Linked DNA regions of Homo sapiens: region 1 is linked to region 2. A link means that fine-mapping ties the variant in region 2 to the expression of a gene that starts in the linked region. Tissue or cell type: whole blood. Region 2 holds a variant in brackets; the other region holds the start of a gene. All regions are shown on one strand. Distances are between the middles of the regions.

Region 1 (8,104 bases), 100 kb before region 2:
TGAGCCATCGTGCCCAGCTGATTTTTTTCTTTTTTTTTTTTTTTTTTGAGATGGAGTCTCACTCTGTTGCCCAGGCTGGAGTGCAGTTGTGTGATCTCAGCTCACTGCACCCTCCACCTCCCAGGTTCAAGTGATTCTCCTACCTCAGCCTCCTGAGTAGCTGGGATTACAGGCATGCGCTACCATGCCTGGCTAATTTTTTCATTTTTAGTAGAGACAGGTTTTTGCCATGTTGTCCAGGCTGGTCTCGAACTCCTGACCTCAGGTGATCCGCCCACCTCGGCCTCCCAAACTGTTGGGATTACCGGCATGAGCCACTGTGCTCGGACCATTTTGCCACAATAAAATTAAGCTGGGGACCGTACCCTGCTTACTGCATCTTCTTCAGCTTCAGAGCCATCCCAGGGCCCATTATGTATTCCAGGGTCTTAACCCCCATTCTCAATGTCACACTGAGCCATTCAACTCAGGACATTCCCAGCAGGATGCCTTCCAGGAACATCTGCCTTTGGATGGGGTCCAGAGTTTTACTCAAACAAATGCATCACTAATGGTTGAATCTTCTCTGGCAGTGGCCCATCTGCTGGGAAGACATTCAGAGACATGAGGTGGTTTCTGGGGTTCCCAAAACCCACCTCCACAAAAGGCAGCATTGGCTGGGTCATTCTTGCAGGGCAGGTGGGAAGCAGCAGATAGAGGCTAAAGATCCTGCCCTGGGACTGAGTTCATGCCCAGCACCCCTGGGGAATCAGCCTATCCTTGCAGCGCCTTCTTGTCCTGGAGCCAGGGTGCCTGGAGATCTTGCAGTTCAGGGCTTGGAAATCACATCTTCCCGGAGCATCAGCTGCAGCTCTAGGAGAAGAAGTCATTGGAGAACGAGAGTCCTGGGTATGAGTTCCTTACTAGCTGTGTGGCCTTGGGCAAGTTATTCAGTCTCTCTGTGCCTTGTGCCTTAGTTTCCCTACGTGTAAGATGAGGATTAAAATAGTTTTGACTGTATATGGGCTTTTAATTGAGATGAAAGCCACGTAACAGAAAATTAATCATTTTAATATTGTGGCCCCAATTCAGTGGCATGTGCATTTGCAACGTTGTGCAACCACCACCTCTATCACATTCCAAGACATTTTCATTGCTCTGGGGTTGCTTTGAGGATTAAATGCATTCGTGTTTGTAAAGCTTTAGAATGGTGCTAGGTATAGTAAGCGCCAATGGAGTGTCAACAAGTGGTAGGAATAATTAGTAGAACAGTAATAATAGGCAACTGGGCCAGGTGTGGTGGCTCATGTCTGTAATCCCAGCACTTTGGGTGGCTGAGGCGGGTGGATCACCTGAGGTCAGGAGTTTGAGGCCAGCCTGGCCAACATGATGAAACCTGTCTCTACTGAAAATACAAAAATTAGCCAGGTGTGGTGGCAAGCGCCTGTAATCCCAGCTACTCGGGAGGCTGAGGCAGGAGAATTGCTTGAACCTGGGAGGCGGAGGTTGTAGTGAGCCGAGACTGCGCCACTGCACTCCAGCCTGGGCAACAGAGCAAGACTCCACGTAAAAAAAAAACCCCAAAACCCAAAAAAAGCTGGAGTGAGTGTTGGTGGCGTTATTAATTCCCTTCCCTGGGGCTGGAGGAGGAGGGAGTGGGGTTCTCACTCCCCTCCAGGCCCCAGTTTCCACTTTGAGCTCTCTGTACCCGCAGGGCTGTCACACCTCTGTCTCCCACGCAGTCATTGTCCTCCCTCAATGTTGGGCAGCAGGAGAGGCGGACTTAACGCCTTTCGTGGTGGTAACAGCAGCTAACGGTGTTAACGTTCACTTTGCTCTGTGGCGATGCCTGGGCAGAGCTGGGCATTTCCTGGATGAGCCCGGGTTAGGACAGTCATCCCTGGATCCCATGTCCCCCACCTACTCACCCTTGTGTTACTCCAGGAGCCATGGGCTATCATTTGCTGCCACCTTGCGACAGGGATGGGAACTTTGTGTCCCATTTCCGCCCTTGATTACCTAAGCCAAGAGTCTGCTGGGCACCTGCTGCCTGCCTGCCAGGTCCCCAGTAAGATCCTTCCCAACATGCGGGCAGCTGAATAAGGCAGCCACTGCCCCTGCCCTCAGGGAGCTCACAGTCTCCTGAGAGAGACCTCCAGGAACCCACAGATATATAAAACGAATAAATGCAATATTAGAATGTGATGCAGGCTAGGAAGGGAAGAGAGGTGATTTTCACAGGGTGCAGTGACATACTTGAAATATATCAGGGGTTGTCCATCTCCCTGGCCACCTCTGACTTCCCCTGCTTGAAGGGGTGAATTCACCCCACGGTGGCACGTAGTAGGTGCTCAGTAAATGTTGAATGAGTGAATACATGGATGACAGCACTGTCCAGAGCCAATTTCTTGGGTCTTGTAGGCTAAACAGATGAGGAGTGGCAAGGCAGGACTTCTGGGAGCAAGGTTGGTCCCCTGGGAGTCCTGGGAGGGCTGAAAGGGGTTAAGTGTGAGTTAAAATGAGAGTGATGGACAAATGTCACTCTCCCAAGGGAGGCCCCCTTACTCCCTGTTTTATTTATTTATTTACTTATTTATTTTGAGACCGAGTCTTGCTTTGTTGCCCAGGCTGGAGTGCAGTGGCCAGGTAACAGCTCACTGCAGCTTTGAACTTCTGGGCTCAAGGGATCCTCCTGCCTCAGCCTCTTGAGTAGCTGGGACCACAGGCACGTGCCAACACGCCTGGCTAATTTTTTTTTTTTTTTTTTGCGACGGAGCTTTGTTCTTCTTGCCCAGGCTGGAGTGCAGTGGCGCAGTCTCGGCTCACTGCAACCTCCGCCTCCTTGATTCAAGCGATTCTCCTGCCTCAGCCTCCCGAGTAGCTGAGATTACAGGTATACGCCACCATGCCCGGCTAATTTTGTATTTTAGTAGAGACGGGGTTTCCTCATATTGGCCATGCTGTTCTCGAACTCCTGACCTCAGCTGATCTGCCTGCCTTGGCCTCTCAGTGTGCTGGGATTACAGGCGTGAGCCACCGCGCCCTGCCTAAACTAAAAAAAAATTTTTTTGTAGAGATAGGTTCTTGCTATGTTACCCAGGGTGGTCTCCAACTCCTGGGTTCAAGCGGTCCTCCCGCTTCCGCCTCCTAAAGTGTTTGGATTACAGGCGTGAGACATGGCGCCCGGCCTCTTACCTGTTTTAAATTGTCCTTTCTCTCCGCTGGCTCCTTGAGCCCCTTTCCTGCTTATTTTTCTCTCGTTAGAGTTTTTCACTACCTCACACATCATATATTTGCCTTATTTATTGAGTGTCTGTCTCCCCACCGTAGTATAAACTCCACGAGGGCAGGGATTCGTGCGTGTGGCTCACCGGCGGCTCTCCAGCGCCTGGACAGGGCTGACCCCCAGCAGGCGCTCTGTGAAGGTGTGCAGAGTGGGCGAAGGTGCATGCGCGGGCCGTGGGGCGGGGACAGGTGGAGGAGCCAGTCAGACCCAAGTGCAGCGGGACGAGGGCGAGGTTAATCTGAGCAAGAAAAGCGTAAATTCTGCTTATCTACAAATGTAAACAGTACTGTCGGCCAGACGCAGGGTCCGGGGCGGGTCGGCCCGGACTCAGGGTCTGCTTGGAGGCAGAGCTAGATTAGGGCGGGGTCGTCCTGTGGCCTACCATTCCCCGAGGCTGAGGGCCTTGGAGGGCGGGGCCAGTGAAGGGGGAGGGGACTTCCTGAGGTGTGACCAATCTAGAGAAAGGACTGGGCTGAGGGCGTGGTCAAACAAGCGACATCTAAAAATAAGGGGCGGGGCTAGAACCAGGGGGAGTTCGCCTGGGGCGGGGCCAGAGTGGGGCGGGACCAGTTAGGGGGCAGGGCCAACCTGGGCGGGGCCATGGCCGGGGACGTGGGCGGGACCAGGTCAGGGGCGGGGCCAGGCCAGGATCTCCGCTGTCCCGGGTCCTGGAGCTCTCTCGGCCCGGCAGGTTTCGCTCCCGCCCCTCCGGCCTTCCACAGCTGTCCTGGCCGCAGGGTGTTCAAGGCGGGACACACCAGGCTAGAGATCCGCGATCGGGCCCCGCCTCAGGTACTGCGCTCCAGGCCAGGCGGGCGCGGGTAAGCGCTCAGCTCCCGAGCCAGGCGGGCTTCCAGGGCACTTCCCCTAGGCTGCATTCCCAAAGGCTCCCGAGGGCGAGGGTGAGCAAAGCTGCGGGGACCTGTGTGTGCATGCGTGTGCGATTGCCTCTACGTGTGTGTACGTGTGTGTGCATGTGCGCACGGGTGTGTGTGCGTGTGTGCACGTCTGTGCACACCAGGGGAATTGCGTGCGTGGAGCTGGGCAGGTGCGTGTTTCAGGGTGTGTGTGCAAAGTTGGAGGCGTGTGCAAAAGCAGTCCCGTGTGGGAGGGAAACCTGCGTGTGTACATGTGTGTGATAGAGACAGTGCCTGTGAAATGTGGTGAAGGCTGTGTGTGTATGTCAGGGTGTCTGGGAGGAAAATGGGAGGGCAGGTGCAAGGAGACTCGGGGGTGGGCTGTAGGCCAGCAAGTCTGTGGCAAGCTGCGGGGTGCATGCGTGAATAGAACCGTGGGAGTGTAAGAATTGCAAATGTGTGTGTGTCTGTGTGGGTGGCCGTAAGGCTTCTGGGGGCCCTCAGTGTGAAGGGGTGGGGGTAGAGGAAAGTTTGGGGGTGCTGACTGCTCTTGGAAGGCTGAGCGTGGTCTGGGGCCATGGCTAATGACAGGGAAGCTGTTGGGGCTTGGCCTGGAGTAATTTGGGGGGAATATCAGCCTTCTCAATTTGAAGGCTGGGGAGCTGTGTGGGTGGGGCCAGGGGCTGCCCCTTACACTTGGTGGGTGGTGTCCCTGCTTCCCGAGGTGGGAGCTGCAACCTCACCAGTCACTCCTCGCCCCAGGCTCTGTGCACACCCCTGCCTGGTGACCTCCATTGGTGCTCCAGCGTGAACATGGTGCAAAGATACCAGTCTCCTGTCCGAGTCTACAAGTACCCGTTTGAGCTGGTCATGGCGGTGAGTGACTCCTGATTCTTGGGCCCCCATGTGACAGTTGGAGGGGCTTGAGATCAGCTATGGCGGTAGGAAGACGGAGCTCCTTAGACTCCCAGATCAGAAGGAATTAGTGAGTTACTCAGCTGACCTGGTGGGTTTAACTTCTATCCAGTGACCTCTCTGTCCAACCATCCTATCCTCGGCCCAGTGACCAAAACACAAAGTCTTTCTTCCTTCTCCTTGTTGAAGCTGACCTGCTCCCTTACTTTAGACTCTCCTGATAGAAAACAAAGGTATCAGGGGCCAAGCCACTGCTGTCATTTCATATAATGGCATATCACAGTGATAAATGGAATGGTGGTGATAATGACAACAGCTGTTTATTGAATGTTTACAGCACTGTCTTAACAGATGATGTTTCTTCCAATTCCCGATAGCTGTTATTTTCCCATGTAACCTCCATGAAACTGAGGCTTTGACAGGTGAAGGGATGACACTAAGTTCTGTATCTACGCAGAGGTGGAGTCGGGGCTGAGATCCCCACAAAGGAGACTCTAGAACCTCACATTTGACCACAGAGCCCTCCTTCTGCTCACAGACCCCCTTCCCTCCCCTTTAAGGAAGCTGACACTGGGACGAGAGAGAGAATGAGTGGGTAGGTTTGCTTTGTGATGTACTCTGTGTTGTGCAGCAAGTCAGTTGGAGGCCTAGAATTGGCTGCCAGATCCTTGGCCCCCAGGATCACTGGTCTTTTCACCCTGGGGGCAGAAGCTGGACATAGGTGGATGTGGAATTCCTTCTTGGCTGCATCCCTCTGCCTCTGAGCACTTCACTTCCCTGCTCAGTAACATGGGGACAATGCTACAAGGTTGCGGGGAGGAGTAAATGAGATAGTTCTTGGTGCTCCTTGCTGTGTGCCGGGCACACAGTAGGAGCTCACAAAATATGCTGTCGCTGTTATTACACCGAAGTCTTGTAAATTAATGTATTGAAAGTGTAAGAAACATTAGCATCCACCCCCATCTGTCCCACCCCAGCACTGACTGCTTAACCCCAGCCTTCTATCCAGGGACTTTCATATCTCTTGGTGGCTGTGTGTGCCTGTGTGTCCAGTCCTGTCTTATTCTATGAATCTACATGCGTATATGTTTATTGTCACACAGAGGATTTAAAAGCATCACCAAAATCATCCACATACCTTGTGCTGTTACAGGCAGATGGTTCTAGGACAGCAAAGAGGCAGGAACTGGCTTAGGGTCATATTCTAGCTCCCCAATTGACGAGCTGAGTGACTGTGGGGCAAGTCACTTCACCTCCATGAGCCTCCACTCCCCATCACCAATGGGAATCTCCTGGCTTCCAAATCCTGGTGTCATGCTGTGGATTAAATGAGTCAATGTGTATAAAGCTCCTGGTACGGGGCTGACGCAGATCAAATGCTCACTGAGATCCAGCTATGATCGTTACTGTTTTTGCAAGTGCCTGAGTGACTTTGCTTCTGCGTAATGGGAGTGGAACACCAGGGGATGGTGAAGAGATCCAGGGACGTGAATTCAGATGCTTTAGGGTTCTGCTGTGCTCTGCCATGCTCTGGTTGTATGTTTTTAGAAAGTTGCTGAACTTAAGCCGGGTGCAGTGGCTCACACCTGTAATCCCAGCGCTTTGGGAGGCCGAGGTGGGTGGATCACAAGGTCAGGAGATCAAGACAATCCCGTGTAACACGGTGAAACCCCAACTCAACTAAAAATACAAGAAAAATTAGCCGGGCGTGGTGGCGCGCACCTGTAGTCCCATCTACTCGGGAGGCTGAAGCAGGAGAATCTCTTGAACCCAGGAGGCAGACGTTGCAGAGAGCCGAGATTGCGCCGCAACACTCCAGCATGGGTGACAGAGCGAGACTCCGTCTCAACAACAACAACAGCAACAACAACAACAACAAAGTTGCTGAACTTTTCTGAGCCCCATTTTCTTTTACTTTTTCCAGACTGAGTCTCACTCTGTTGCCCAGACTGGAGTGCAGTGGTGCCATCTTGGCTCACTGCAACCTCTGCCTCCCAGGTTCAAGCCATTCTCGTGCCTCAGCCCCCTGAGTAGCTGAGATTACAGATGCACACCACCATGCCCAGGTAATTTTTGTATTTTCAGTATAGACGGGGTTTCATCACGTTGGCCACGCTGGTCTCGAACTGCTGACCTCAAGTGATCCACTAGCCTCGGCCTCCCAAAGTGCTGGGATTACAGGGGTGACTCACTGCATCCGGCCCCTATTCATATAGCCTTAAGTGCTATATTCATGGGCATGGCTTATTTTCAAGTGCAATGATTGTAAATATTTTCAGAACCCTAAACGTGACAAATTAAGTTGGAATTTATTAAGCACATGCAGTAGATGGTTTTCCATCCTATAGTTAATGTGTCTCAGATTCATGGCAGAGAACCATGGGTCCTTGGACTGTCAGAGAAGGGTGGGGACAGTTTCTCTCTTCTTATGAATGAATGAACAAGTGCTTGGGTCTTAGAACATGTGAGCTGCCAGAGCCTTAAACTAAGGGTGATTATTTATGTTTATCGACCACTTATTGTCACTTGGTAGGACTGGGCCCTGTGCGAGGCAAACAGACACACACACACACAATCACTTTTCATCTTCATGACAACCTTATGAGGCGCATATAGGCATACAGTCATCCCCATTTCACAAATCAAGAAAATGGGGGCTGGGTGCTTATTCATAGAATAAGACAGGACTGGACACACAGTCCTGCACTCGAGCCTGGGCAACAGAGCGAGACTCTGTCTCAAAAAAAAAAAAAAAAAGAAAAAGAAAAAAAGAAAAGAAAACAAAAACAACAGAAAAACTATATGAATAGCACTAGTAATGTACTCGCATTGCCTGTATTGGGTATGTTAAACATATTTTGTAAGCTTCAGGTTCCACAAATGAAGGCACGGCTCCATTTACTCCCTTCGCTGTTGAGTCTCTAGGTACTGACACCTGTGGGTAGAGTGAAAAAAAGGCTTTCAAATCTATATTATCTGTGGCCAGGTATGGTGGATCATGCCTGTAATCCCAACACTTTGGGAGGCTAAGGCGGGCGGACCACCTCAGGTCAGGAGTTCGAGACGA
Region 2 (8,104 bases):
TTTCTTTTTTTTTGAGGCAGAGTCTTAGTCCATTGCCTGGGCTGGAGTGCAGTGGCGCAATCTTACTCACTGCAACCTCCGCCTCCCGGGTTCCAGTGATTCTCCTGCCTCAGCCTCCTCTTGTAGCTGGGATTACAGGTGCACGCCACCACGTCCAGCTAATTTTTTTTTTGTATTTTTAGTAGAGAATGGGTTTCACCATGTTGGCCCAGCTGGTTTTGAACTCCTGGCCTCAAGTGATCTGCCTGCCTTGGCCTCCCAAAGTGCTTGGATTACAGGCATGAGCCACCACGTCCGGCTGCCCCTTTTCCTTTTTCCTTCCCCTTCCCCTGGCACGGCGGGGGCTCCCTGGGCACTCACCATTCTGGCCCAGAGGAAGAAGAGCAGTTGGTGGGACAGGCAGTAGCCTGAGCAGCCGGGCTTGGTCATGAGGCTCCTGCAGAGGTCTGAGAGGCCGCAGGGCTCGCTGCTGTCCGTCCTGGGGGAAAGTGGTTCCAAGCTGTTAAGGATGGAGCGCTGACTCTGCCCTGCGTCTTCCCAGCCCCCTAGTTGTAGTTGTTGGAACTCCCAGTAGATTCCAGACACCCAGCTGGGCATGGGGGTTGACAGAGACAATACAGCAGTCCTGCATTTTGATTTGCTAAATCTGGCTGCCCTAGCCCAGGAAAGATGACGCTAGAGCTATTCTGGGGTTGAGGAAGCCACCAAGGCTGAAACTTCCTATTGCTCCATGGGCCAAATCACATCTTTTCCAGCCCCGAACAGTGGGTACTTGAACCCAGACCACTTGGAATCTGGGCCCAACATGCTTATTCCTCCTGCACCAGCCAGGCGCGGTGGCTTACACCTATAATTCTAGCACTTTGGGAGGCTGAGGCAGGCAAGTCACCTGAGGTCAGGAGTTCGAGACCAGCCTGGCCAACATGGTGAAACCCTGTCTCTACAAAAAATACAAAAATTAGCTGGGTGTGGTGGCACGTGCCTGTAATCCCAGCTACTCGGGAGGCTGAGGCAGGAGAATCACTTGAGAATCACTTGAATCCGGGAGGCAGAGGTTGCAGTGAGTTGAGATCGCATCACTGCACTCCAGCCTGGGAGACAGAGCGAGACTCCATCTCAAAATAAATAAATAAAAATAAAATAAAATAAAGTAAAAATAAAAAATACACACACAAATACAAAAATTAGCCGGGCATGGTGGCGCACATCTGTAATCCCAGCTACTCAGGAGGCTGAGGCATGAGAATCACTTGAACCTGGTAGGAGGAGCTTGCAGTGAGCCGAGAAAGAACACACCACTGCACTCCAGCCTGGGGGACAGTGAGCCTCTGTCTCAAAAAAATAAAAATAAATAAAAATTTTTAAAAAGCAGAGGTCCTTGGCTGGGGCCCAGCCCCTCCGTGAATCCAGCTGTGTCCTGGCCTAAGCACTGCTCTGAAGGATGCTGACAGGATGCGGCCTGGGCACCGGCTGCCCACTTTGCCCATGGGCCCTGCACCTAGGGCTGCCCTGGGGCCTTGTTCCAAGCCCACCAAACACCAGGATAAAATGAGGAGCCCAGCTAGGCTCAGTCCTGTCTTCCTGGAGCTGCATCCTCACTGGGGATGGGGACAGGCTCATAATACAAATGTAAATTGCATCTGTGGCTATAAGAGGTGCCAGGAGAGGCCCTCACAGGAGGTCTGCTATGTGCTGGGGTCAGAGATAGGATGGGGTTGGAGGTAGGATGCTGGCGCCAGCCCTGGAGGATGGGCAGACTTCCTGAGGCCCAGGGGGTGGAGTGGGTGGGGTGGGGGGAGCAAAGTCTTTGAAGTGGGAGGAAGCCTTGGAGAGTCTGAAAAGAGGCCTCTAGGGGCCTGGAGACTTGGAACTGCGGAGAGGAATTGGGGATTTGTCCTGGGGCCTGGAGGTGGTGTGTTCAGCCATGGCTGCTGGAAGGCCTGCTGTGGCATGGGAGGCCAGCGGGCGGCTGGAGCAAGGGGGACCCTGCTGGAGTAGGAGAGGGCAGTACCCGGCAGCTACAGGGAGCTGCACCTGTGTCTGCACAAACCCCTGGCTTCAGCCCTAGGGCTTGGAGAAGGAGGAGCGGGACAGGACCAGCTGAGAACTAGTGCGTTTGGGTTTCCAGCAAATAGGGCAAGTGCAGGGCCCACCCGGTTCCCAGCAGCTGCACCAGGCACACGTCACTTCTCTCCTCTGAGAATGAGTCCTGGGGCCCGAACGTGGGGTACACCAAGGAGGCATCAGTGTGGATCCAGGCATGTGGGAGCTTCCAAAACCCGGGCTGGAGGGTCAGCTGGAACTCTGGCAGAGAGGACAGATAGATGGGGTGGGGTGTGGGGGTGACCCAGGAGCAGTGGGCCACCCTGGTGTCCCCACCTCCTCCTGCAGCCCTGCCCACTGGCAGGTGCAGCTCAGGGCTCTAAGCCCTGTCCCCTGGTCCCAGATTGGGTTTGAAACACTCAAGAAAGCTCCTTTTGCTTATAAAACCATTTTTTCCCCTAATCAATAGGAACAGTGATGGGACGGGATTTGACTAAACCCACTGCATCCCATGGAAACCCCAGATAAATAAAAGGTTTAGTTTCCCAGGTGCAGGGCTCACGCCTGTCATCCCAGCACTTGGGGAGGCTAAGGAAGGAAGATCGCTTGAGGCCCAACGTTCAAGACCAGCCTAGGCAACATAGCAAGACTCTGTCTCCACAAAAATAAAAAAAGTAGCCAGGTGTGGTGGTGTGCACCTGTAGTCCCAGCTGAGGCAGGAAGGTTGCTTGAGTCTAGAAGTTGGAGAATGCAGTGAGCTATGATCAGCCTTTTTTTTTTTTTTTTTTTTTTTTAAGAGGCAGGGCCAAGAGCGGTGGCTCACGCCTATAATCCCAGCACTTTCGGAAGCCAAGGCGGGCGAATCACTTGAGGTCAGGAGTTCAAGACCAGTCTGGCTAACACAGTGAAATCCCATCTCTACTAAAAATACAAAAAATTAGCTGGGTGTGGTGGCAGGTGCCTGTAGTCCCAGCTACTCAGGAGGCTGAGGCAGGAGAATAGCATGAACCCGGGAGACAGAGCTTGCAGTGAGCCGAGATTGCACCACTGCACTCCAGCCTGGGTGACAGAGCAAGACTCCATCTCAAGAAAAAAAAAAAAAAAAAAAAGCCGGGCGTGGTGGCGCATGCCTGTAGTCCCAGCTACTTGAGAGAGGCTAAAGCAGGAAAATCACTTGAACCCAGGTTGCAGAGGTTGCAGTGAGCTGAGATCGCACCACTGCACTCCAGCCTGGGCGACAGGGTGAGACTCTGTCTCAAAAAAAAAAAAAAAAAAAAAAAAAAAGAGAGACAGAGTGAGACACTGTCTCAAAAAAAAAAAAAAAAAAAACCCCCCCAAAAAAAAAAACAAGTGGGGAGGTGGAATTAGTGGGGAGGTGATATTGGTAGACCTTTTGGTTTGGTGAGAACGTGGAGCTCTTAACTAAACAGATGCCCAGTCATAGATATCTTTAAGATGACATAGGTGGGGACAGTGTTAGGGACCAGGCCTGGGAGAGGGTGGGGGACCTTAAAATTGGAAAGGTCAGCATGGGCTATGGTCCCTGCGGCTGGACTGCCGTGTGAGCATGAAGCGTGGCCTGGCTACCTCCCCGCTCACCCCCATGCATCTGATGGGAGTGGGGAGCAGAGGGGACAGGGTTGGAGCAGCATGATGGACTGGTTATTTGTGCCCCGCCCTTGCCATCCAGGAACAACTCAGCCAAACTTATTAGATGGGACCTTTTGCAGGGTCACTCGGGGCTGGTGAGGAGAGAGAGACTCTCAGTGGTCATAAGGCATGAGAAAGATAAACCCCACTGTTTTGAAAAATAGTGTGTGGACAACTTCGGGAATTTCTACTGACATTTAATGAAGTGGATTAAAATAATTTGGTGACATGGGACACTACTGTTTGCTGTGCAAAGGGTTGAATTGCCTTTTGGATACTCTCCCCTCTGGGACAGCCCAGCCTCTCCGCTCTAGTCTAGGACCAGGACCTCCAGCTTGTGCGTGCGCTGAATGCTTGAGAGAAGACACCCTGCTTCCTCTGCACACCTCTGTGTGGGTAGGAGAGCCCGTCAGAGTCTGAAGTCAAGGATGACCGCACGTCCCCAGGGCTCGTCTGTGGCTTGCTCAGCAGACAGGTCCAAGTTGGTTAC[G/A]GACTGTCCCAGCCCAGCCTTGCCCCAGGAGAGCCCACGCTGGGTTATTTCAGTCAATATCCCCATAGGCGCTATTCCTGAGGGAATGGGACACCCTGCGTGTGCTCACCTCTTAGGTACTTGGGATCACTCAGCTTGAGGTAGTGGAGGGATCTCTGGATGGCAGCCTCCAGCTTCTCCCCCAGCATCCCCACGCGCAGGCTCAGCGGCTGCAGCAGGGGCTCCTGGGCCCACTTCTCCCGGACACTTTTTAGCTGCTCTGGAAGGGAACAGAGTTAATTCATTCAACTATTTGGAATCGGGACCTTTTTTTGCCTTGGAACAAGAAAAAAAAATGCCCCAAAGTCTAATGCTTCCTGGGAGCCTCTCTGCCTTCTCCAGCACTCAGAGGGGAAGGATTTACTGAGCTGACTGGAAATGAGGCCAGGATGGGGGTGATCTGGGCAATGAGAATGGGTGTCAGAGTAGTAGAAGGTGGTGGCTGAGAGCTTGGTTTCTGGAGGCGGGCCTGGGTTCAAATCTTTGATACTTGAGGTTCAAATCCTCAAATCCTTGACTCATATACTTTCTTGTTGGATGGCCAGAGAAAGGTTGCAGGGTAGAGAACCACTGTGTACAGTTGAGCAGGTTGTACACTGCACAAGGGCAACACACATTTGGATCATGGGTTTGTATATGCAGTAAGACAATTTCCCAGCAGATGGCTGTCAAGTGACTTCAGGAAGGAAGTGCCTTTTTCTAATTCCCACAGAGGTACCCTGTGGGCTAGCAGTGGCTTTGTTGAGGTGGGAGACAATGGTGAAGATCCAGAGGTGGCCAGAAATTGGGGAGACATGAGTGAGAACATCCGAGTGAGAGCATTCACGCAGGGCTGAGAGGGCGAGGGATGAAGTGGGGCAGCTGCAGTCAGGTAGGAACCTTGTTAGGGAGGATGGGCTAGGTTAAGAAGGATGCTGAGGTAGTCCTCCAGGGCGACCGGCTCTGGCACGCCCCCTCTGCTCAGCCCCCTCCATGGGCAAACCCGCAGGGAAGAAGTAAAGGCTTGGGAGTGCTGACAGGGAGGGGCTCCCTGTGTGTCAGAGTGTCTCCTCCTGTGATTGCACCGGGTCTACAAAGTCCAATAGGACAGGGGTCCCCAACCTCCAGTCCATTACTGGTCTATGGCCTGTTAGGAATGGGGCCGCACAGCAGGAGGTGAGTGGTGGGTGAGCGAGCTAAGCTGCATCTGTAATTTACAGCCACTCCCCATCATTCGCTGTCACTACCGCCTGAGCTCCGCCTGCTGTCAGATCAGTGGCTGCATTCGATTCTCACAGGAGTGTGAACCCTGTTGTGAATTGCACATACGAGGGATCTAGGCTGCACACACCTTATGAGGATCTAATGCCCGATGATCTGAGACCGTCTCCTATCACCCCCAGACGGGATTATCTACTTGCAGGAAAACAGTCTCAGGGCTTCAACTGATTCTACATTGTGGCGAGTTGTATAATTATATATTATAACATAATAACAATAAACAGAAAGTGGGCTGGGCACGGTGGCTCACGCCTGTAATCCCAGCACTTTGCGAGGCCGAGGCAGGTGGATTACTTAAGTCCAGGAGTTCAAGACCAGCATGGCCAACATGGTAAAACCTCATCTCTACCAAAAATACAAAAATTAGCCGGGCGTGGTGGTGGGTACCTGTAGTCCCAGCTATTTGGGAGGCTGAGCAGGAGAATCGCTTGAACCTGGAGGTGGAGGTTGCAGTGAGCTGAGGTGGCACCACTGCACTGCAGCCTGGGCGACAGAGCGAGACTCCGTCTCAAAATAATAATAATATAATAATAATAATAAATAAAAAATAAAGTGCACAATAAATTTAATGCACGTGAATTGTCCTGAAACCCTCCCCTCCACCTCAGTCCATGGAAAAATTGCTTTCCACAAAACCAGTCCCTGGTGTCAAAAAGGTTGGGGACCACTGCAATGGGACGTAGACCCTGCCCACTGGGAGCTCATTGTTTAGAGAGACACAGGTGAGGAAGCCGTTGCTGCTAGTCAAGGATGCTCAATGCTTTGATAGATGGAAACAGTAATGGCTGACAAGTACTGAGCCCCACTGGTAAGATGACATATACACACAATCTCATGAGACACATGTGCATGATCGTGTGATACTCCCATCCACCAGCTGCAGCTGAAGGATGAGGAAACCAAAACTCCACGAGAGCAGTTAACTCAGTGCCATGCAGCCAGTTGGGGGAGATCCAGGATTTGAACCTGGGCAGTCCAGTTCTGAAGCTCTGTTCTAGGCACTGGCACTGCCTTTGCTCCCTTCTGGGCACAGTTCACGGGTGTGGTTGTATTAAGCACTGAATTCCTAGGGAATCTGTTATGGAGCAAGATTATTGAGAGGAGAAGGGGCAGTGGATGTGGGATGTGGCGTGGGTGGAGAAGCCGGGCTCACTGCAGCTGCCAAGGAGTGGGGACCCTGGTCTGAGGCTGTTAGGTGGGGCCGCTTTCCCAGTGAATGCTGCCCAGTCATGATTAAGAGAACCCCCTCCCTTCTTTGCTAAAAGAGGATAATAATAATGGGTGTAACCTCAGGGATGACGGGGAGAGGGCACTGAAGTACCCCATGCAATGCACCTGGGTTGTGCCCACATTGAGCAGATACTTAGTGAACTACAGCTTTTGCTATCACATGCGCCCCAGGAAGCACCCAGCCCTGTGGGAGCCACCTGTGTGCTTGTGTGTGTGTGTGATATGCTTGTGTGCATGCGTGCATGCGTGCTTGTGTGTGTGATGTGCATGTGTGTGTGCGTGCGTGCATGTGTGCTTGTGTGTGTGTGCATGATGTGCGCATGTGTGTGTTTACCTTGGCCTGTCTCCAGCCCCCTTCTTGGGGATCTTATAGCTCTCAAAGCTAAACAAACACTTGACTGTTTTTGCAGAACCTTCAGGAGACTTTGGCTGCAAGTGGAGGAAGTGGGGTGGGAACCCGATCTTGAGGGTCCTCAGTTTTGTCCACAGCCACCTCATTCAAGGGGAGGGGTCTTCCCACAAATATCTGTTAACGGGGCACTCTCCCTGCTCCCCTTGTTCGTGGCGTTGTGAGGAGGGGCTGTCAAATGGATCATTTCATTCTGAGAAAAAGATAATTCCCAAATCCCTTCCCATGTTGCCTTTAAATCTTTCCTACTTCTAAAAAATTGCGTAACAGTTAGCTGGGCCACAGCCGCCAGGAAGATCCAGCCCCTGGCCTCCTCTCTCCTTATAGCCGAGGCAGGCTATACTGGGGCCAGGAGTCTGCCAGGTCCCAGGCGTACAGAGCAGGGCAGGGGACAAAGCTGAGAGCTAGCTTCCCAGTGTCCAGCCAGAGGAATTGGGGCTCACTCACCTTCCAGCACTCGGACCCCCACCATGCCATCCAGGTTGATTTCAGGCAGCCTCTGTTCTAGGAAGACGGTGGCTCTCTCCAGCGCAGACAGGATCAGGTCTGCAATGGTGGCTTTACTTTCAGCAGTGTCCAGCCCAGGCAGTGAGGAGGACCACAGCGGTGGCAGTGCTGTCAGTAAGAGCAGGAGCAGCAGCCCCAGGCTGGCCATGGCCGGCCTCTGCTCACTGCTGGTCACACGCTCAGCACCCTGAGCTCTGGCCAAGCCCAGACTGCCTCTGCACGCCCTCCTCCCACCTCCTTCCCACCTCCCCCTGGCAGACATGAAGACAAGTGGCCCGGCAGGGCTGCCAAGAAGCCTGGGGTGGCCTGGGCAAAGGACTCTGGGAAGGGTGGCTGCAGGGGGATGACGGTTAGGCAGCGGAGGTTAGGCCAGTCCTGGGCGTAGAGCCTGCTGTCCACGGGATGCTGGGGAGAGGGCTGCCCGCCCTGTCCTTCTCAGCCCTGATTCTCCAGGCTCACAGGCTAGATCTTTGATC

The links. PIP is the estimated chance that this variant, and not a neighbour inherited with it, causes the effect.
Region 1: SEC14L5 starts here. The variant in region 2 is fine-mapped to the expression of SEC14L5 in whole blood (INTERVAL, PIP above 0.99).

What each region holds. Positions count from the first base shown.
Region 1 is chr16:4,954,389-4,962,492 of GRCh38, forward strand. SEC14L5 (SEC14 like lipid binding 5) reads left to right here and starts at 3,942. Exons shown (of 16, transcript NM_014692.2): 1 at 3,942-4,057; 2 at 4,885-4,998. The coding sequence starts at 4,936. RefSeq lists silencers at 3,827-4,036, 3,835-4,130 and an enhancer at 3,934-4,469.
Region 2 is chr16:5,058,133-5,066,236 of GRCh38, forward strand. C16orf89 (chromosome 16 open reading frame 89) reads right to left here and starts at 7,824. Exons shown (of 8, transcript NM_001098514.3): 1 at 7,569-7,824; 2 at 4,293-4,442; 3 at 2,154-2,304; 4 at 361-478. The coding sequence starts at 7,776. RefSeq lists a silencer at 1,736-2,030. The variant G/A (reference allele first, on the strand shown) is at 4,184.